2 separate regions of the Homo sapiens genome follow, and region 2 is linked to region 1. Evidence: fine-mapped QTL for protein levels in blood plasma. A gene starts in region 1. The other region holds a variant in brackets. All regions are shown on one strand. Distances are from middle to middle.

Region 1 (2,500 bases):
CAGCACCCCGCTGATCCCCAGTGTACAGAGAAGGAAAGTTTATTTATTATTATTATTATTGAGATAGAGTCTTGCTCTGCCACACAGGCTGGAATGCAGTGCTGCAATCTCGGCTCACTGCAACCTCTGCCTCCTGGGTTCAAGCGATCCTCCCACCTCAGCTCCTAAGTAGCTGGGAGTACAGGTGCCCATCATCAAGCCTGGCTAATTTTTGCATTTTTAGTAGAGATGGGGTTTCACCATGTTAGCCAGGCTGGTCTCGAACTCCTGACCTCAAGTGATCCACCCATCTTGGCCTCCCATAGTGCTGGATTTTCAGGAGTGAGTCACCGTGCAGGGCCTGAGATTATTAAAAGTATATGGGAAGGCTGGGCATGGTGGCTCATGCCTGTAATCTGAGCACTTTGGGAGGCCAAGGTGAGTGGATCATTTGAGCCCAGGAGTTCGAGACCAGCCTGGGCAACACAGCGAGACGCTGTCTCTGTAAAAAGTATACACCAAAAAAATTAACCAGGCATGGTAGTGTGCACCTGCAGTCCCAGCTACTCAAGGGGCTAAGGCAGGAGGATCACTTGAGCCCAGGTGGTCAAGGCTGCAATGAGTTATGATTAGGCCACTGCACTCCAGCCTGGGACACAGAGTGAGACCCTACCTCAGTAAATAAATAAATAAATAAATAAATAAATAAATAAATAAATAAATAAGTAAAGTATACGGAAGGATGTGCATAGGTTATATGCAAATACTTTACCATTTTATATCAGGAACTTGAGCATCTTTGGATTTTGGTATCTGCAGAGGGTCCTGGAACCATTGCCCCGTAAATATGGAAATGACTGTATACATTATATTATGTATGTCTATCTATTGTAAACTACATACATAAGATACTATACTATGTATACCTATTAGATACATACTTGCTTTTTATTCCTTCCTTAGTTTTTTTTCTCATTGAACTCCGGGAGGTGGAAAAAATTTAGTGCATTTCACAGAAGAGAAAATCTAGACCAGAGGAAAGATGTCTAAGTTCGATCCCAGAAGCCATGACTGCCCATCTCCCATTTGACAGCAGGAAAGACTGAGGCACAGAGAGATGAAACCAACCCACACAGCAGGCCCACAGCTCTCCACACATACACGTGCCTCCACCCAGCAAGAGGAGCCGCCATGCCAGGGTCAGGGGACTCACCGCCCTGCCTGGACAGCAGGAAGAGGAAGAGGAGGGGGACCACCCAGGTCACCAGCGGCTCCATCGGATCCACGTAGAGCCCCACAGCCCCAGGGGAGCCTCTCTGCCACCTGCGAGGTTCAGCCACCCCGTCCCCACTCCGGAACACATTGAAGCTGAGCAAGGAGAAAAGACTGAAAAAAAAGAAAAAAGAAAAAAAGTAAAGTGTCACAGCCCATCCCTAAGGCAAGTCAAAGTGAAAGAGAAACCCAGGAAGTCAGCTCCGTGGTGGTGGTGATGGTGGCGGCCACAGACTCTGGAGCAAGTCTGACTTTGGAGCAAGTCAGGGTTCTAGGGGGTTCTGCCCTGCTGGCCCCAGACCTGAACTGAACACCCAGATGCCAGCCCCATGGGCCCATGGGCCACCTGTGGTTCCATGCACTTGGCCAGGTCTCTGGCCCTCTCTAGCCAATTTTTTTTTTTTTTTTTGAGATGGAGCCCTGCTCTGTCGCCCGGGCTGGAGTGTGGTGGCATGATCTCCACTCACTGCAACTTCTGCCTCCCGGGTTCAAGCAATTCTCCTGCCTCAGCCTCCCGAGTAGCTGGAATTACAGGCAACTGCCACAACATCGAGCTAATTTTTGTATTTTTAGTAGAGACAGGGTTTCACCATGCTGGCCAGGCTGGTCTCGAACTCCTAACCCTAAGTGATCCACCCACCTCAGCCTCCCAAAGTGCTGGGATGACAGGCGTGAGCTACCGTGCCTGGCTGCCAAATTCTTTTTTTCTTCTTTTGAGATAGGGTCTTGATCTGTGGCCCAGCTGTAGTGCAGTGGTGCAATCACGGCTCACTGCAACATCAACCTCCCCAGGCTCAGGCCATCCTCCTACCTCAGCCTCCCCAGGAACTGGGACTACAGGCATGCACCACCACGCCCAGCTAATTTTTGCATTTTTTTTTTTTTAAGAGAGGGGGTTTTGCCATGTTGCCCAGGCTGGTCTCAAACTCCCGGGTTCAAATGATCCGTCCGCCTTGGCCTACCAAAATTCTGGGATCACAGGCGTGAGCCACCGCACCGGGCCATCTCGCCAGCTTCTGAATCTGAGACTCAAGAGCTGAAGGAGGGCAGTGTTCTTGGATGGCCTAATTTCATCCTTCCAACAAATTGTTACAAAGAGCTTGCAGCATGCTGGCCCTCCACAATGCCCACCTCCCCACATGCCAAGCTCCAGCCTTGTGCACCTGGGCTCACCCCTCTAATCCCAGCACTTTGAGAGGTCGAGGTGGGAGGATCACTTGACCCCAGGAGTTTGGGTCTACCTAAACAA
Region 2 (3,017 bases), 28 kb before region 1:
TGCACTCTGGCAAAAGTCCCAGCTGCTGCCAGTAAACATTGCCTGTCTCCTACTTCTCGCACCCAAGGGACTGTGCATAGGGGTGGGTTTGCAGCCAACTCCAGGGGCCTCCAGGGCTCACACCTGCAATCCCAGCAGTTTGGGAGGCCGAGGCGGGTGGATCACTTGAGGTCTGGAGTTCAAGACGAGCCTGGCCAACATGGTGAAACCCTGTTTCTACTAAAAATACAAACACATTTTAGCTGGTCAGGGTGGCGGGCGCCTGTAATCCCAGCTACTTGGGAGGCTGAGGCAGGAGAATCGCTTGAACCCGGGAGGTTGCCGTGAGCCAAGATCGCGCCATTGCACTCCAGCAACAAGAGCCAAACTCCGTCTCAGAAAAAAGAAAGGAGGATAAACGCTCAAGGGAGGGCATGCCTGGTGGAGGGAACGGCTTGAGCAGAAGCTGGGATGTGGCAGATCCGGAGCGGGGCGGGGGGCATTTGCAGAACTCTGACCAGCCACCGTGTGGCTGGGGCACCGAGATCCAGGCCTCTGTTTCCCTATCTAGATGCATCGATGGGGAAAGGGAGGCCCCCAGACCAAAGGGGCGGGGCCTGGGCCTCTTGCCTCCTGGCCCTATTGGCTGCCAGGGGTCTCTCCCCGAGAGGTCTCATCCTTTTTTTGCCACAAAATTCAGTAGTTCTGGGCTTTTTAACTCCCCTCCTCTGTCTGAAACCGGAAAAGTCTGTTTAGCAAACGCGGTGGGAGGAGGCAGGGCGGGCCCGGCCGGGGAAACGCGCGCCGCTGTTGCCACCTGGTGGCCATGGGGAGAATCTGGACTACCCGCTAATCGCCAGGGCTGGGGTGGGATTTCAGGAGCCCCCCCCCACACCTCGGCTCAGACCGCAGTGGGGATCAGGGGGAGGCGGCTGCAGAACGCGAGGGAGGTGGGGCAGTGTGGGCAGAAAGAGGGAGGATTCAGGGTGTGTAAGGGGGGCAAGGGTCCTGCTGCGAGTTGGTGGGCGTGAGGAGGAAGGAGCGTGGGGGCAAACCACGGTTCCTGTTACCGGAGTGCCCGGCTGCTCCACTCCCCCTAGGCCGTCCCTTCCCCTGCTCAGTCCTAACTTAGTAGGGTTCCAAGCTCTCATCCGGCTCTGTCTCCCCCGGATTAGGTGCTCCTGGAGGAGACCTAGAGGAAGAGATTAATAAATATATGTGGAATGAATGAATGAATGAATGAATGAATTCCAAGGCTCGTGTTTTGAGATTTTGAGCAGGACATTCAAGCTTCAAACAGGAAAAAAATACCCAAGAGGAGGCTCATTTACGATGATTTTGAACAGCTGTGTAAGGTCATTATCACCACCCCCATTTTATAGGGGGGTGAGGGTGGGGTGGGGGGTGGGATGGGAGGACCGTCATTTTTCCCACAAAGTTTACAGCCCCCTTCCCTATATGCCTGGATCCTCCAAGCTACAAGACCCCGCAATGCTGCAGGGAGCCCTTGAGTCCAGACTCCCCATCCAGTGCTCCTGGGGGTGGATGCCCAGCCCAGGGTCCAGGGATCCATCTGAGCCCCCCTTGCCCCCATTCCCAGTCCATTCTACGCCAGAACAGGTAAATGGCAGGGTCTGCTCCTGCCCCACGGATGCCAGGCCCAGCAGGGTGCAGCAGCTTCCATTTCATGGCAGCATCTAGGGT[T/TC]CCCCCGCAGGATGGGTGGCAACAGGCACGGGGCAGAGAGGAGGCAGGTGCACTGGAGCCTGGAGGAGCTCTGGGTTATTTGGGTCCAAATGTGACTCCTGTGTGTGCTACGTAGCCTCGGGCGAGTCACTCACCCTCTCTGAGCCTCAACGATCACATCTGTAAAGTACAACAGTCATGGTTCCTTTCAGGGGGTGGTTGTAGGGATTTGGTAGGGAATCATGTGAGTGGATGGAATGGGCTGGGTATGCCATAAGTGCTTAATAACCAGCCGTTGTGATTGAGATAGTCGCTCTTCGTGTCTGTAAGACAAAGTGGATGTTTTCGTTTCTCCCTCAGGCCTCCAGGCCCTGATATCCCAGGAGCGATGGATGTCTAGCCCCCCCACCCCCCGGGCAGGGTTGCACCCCTGACCGTCTGGCCCACTGGGCCCCAGGACCTTGGCCTTGCACCTGTCTCCATCCTCCAAGGACAACTCTGTATCCAGGGCCAGCTCAGGGGCACCCTCAGGTAGCTCTGTCTTCTCGAGAGGCTCAGTCCTCTCGCCTTTGTCCCAGGACATCTCTACCACCAGGGCCTCCTGCAGGGATGCCTCTTCCTGGAAGTCCACTGGGTTGATCCACTGCCAAGTCTGCAGAGGGAGGGTAGGGCCACAGCTGTGAGCAGAGCTCTACTTCCCATCCACAGCAGGATGGAACGGACCAGGTCACTGCTGGTTAAATTCTCTAACATCCTGAGACCTGGACGGGTGCAGTGGCTCACACCTGTCATCCCAGCACTTTGGGAGGCTGAGGCGGGTGGATCACTTGAGGTCAGCAGTTTGAGACCAGCCTGGAGAACATGGCCAAACCCCATCTCTACTAAAAATACAAAAATTAGCTGAGCTTGGTTGCGCACGCCTGTAATCCCAGCTACTTGGGAGGCTGAAGCAGGAGAATCGTTTGAACCCGGGAATCAGAGGTTGCAGTGAGCCGAGATGGCGCCACTGCACTCCAGGCTGGGTGACAGAGCGAGACTCCATATATCCTGAGACCGATTTGAGGATGGAGTCTGCCGCACTGACTCCCATTCAGCCCCTCTTAGGAAGAGCACTCCCATCTGTCTTTGGGAAATTTCCCTCCCTCTTTTCACAGATGGTGTGGTTGACAGTGCAGTGACCCCACCTCAGCTCTAGCAATGGTCATGTGACCCTGGCCAGCCCACCCATCAGACCCTTCCCTACCCCTCTGGTTCTAGCCATAGGCTCAGGGAAGGGCATGTGACCCAAGCTGGACCAATCAGTGATGGCCCTGAGACTTTTGCCCCAGTTAATGGGGAAAATGGACACCCTGCTT

What was found. PIP is the chance, under the fine-mapping model, that this variant and not a neighbour inherited with it causes the effect. The UK Biobank Pharma Proteomics Project read protein levels with antibody pairs (Olink). The fine-mapping took linkage between variants from a reference panel, not from the people measured, so its PIPs are less certain.
Region 2: its variant is fine-mapped to the plasma level of the IL12RB1 protein (UK Biobank, PIP above 0.99).

Annotation. Positions count from the first base shown.
Region 1 is chr19:18,085,568-18,088,067 of GRCh38, forward strand. It overlaps IL12RB1 (interleukin 12 receptor subunit beta 1), which reads right to left and starts at 1,367. Exons shown (of 17, transcript NM_005535.3): 1 at 1,193-1,367. The coding sequence starts at 1,256. RefSeq lists enhancers at 1,279-1,628, 1,639-1,698.
Region 2 is chr19:18,057,772-18,060,788 of GRCh38, forward strand. It overlaps IL12RB1 (interleukin 12 receptor subunit beta 1), which reads right to left. Exons shown (of 17, transcript NM_005535.3): 16 at 2,123-2,314; 17 at 1,224-1,842. The coding sequence ends at 1,837. Among named protein-coding and RNA genes, the nearest start is that of IL12RB1, 28 kb to the right of the region's middle. The variant T/TC (reference allele first, on the strand shown) is at 1,684.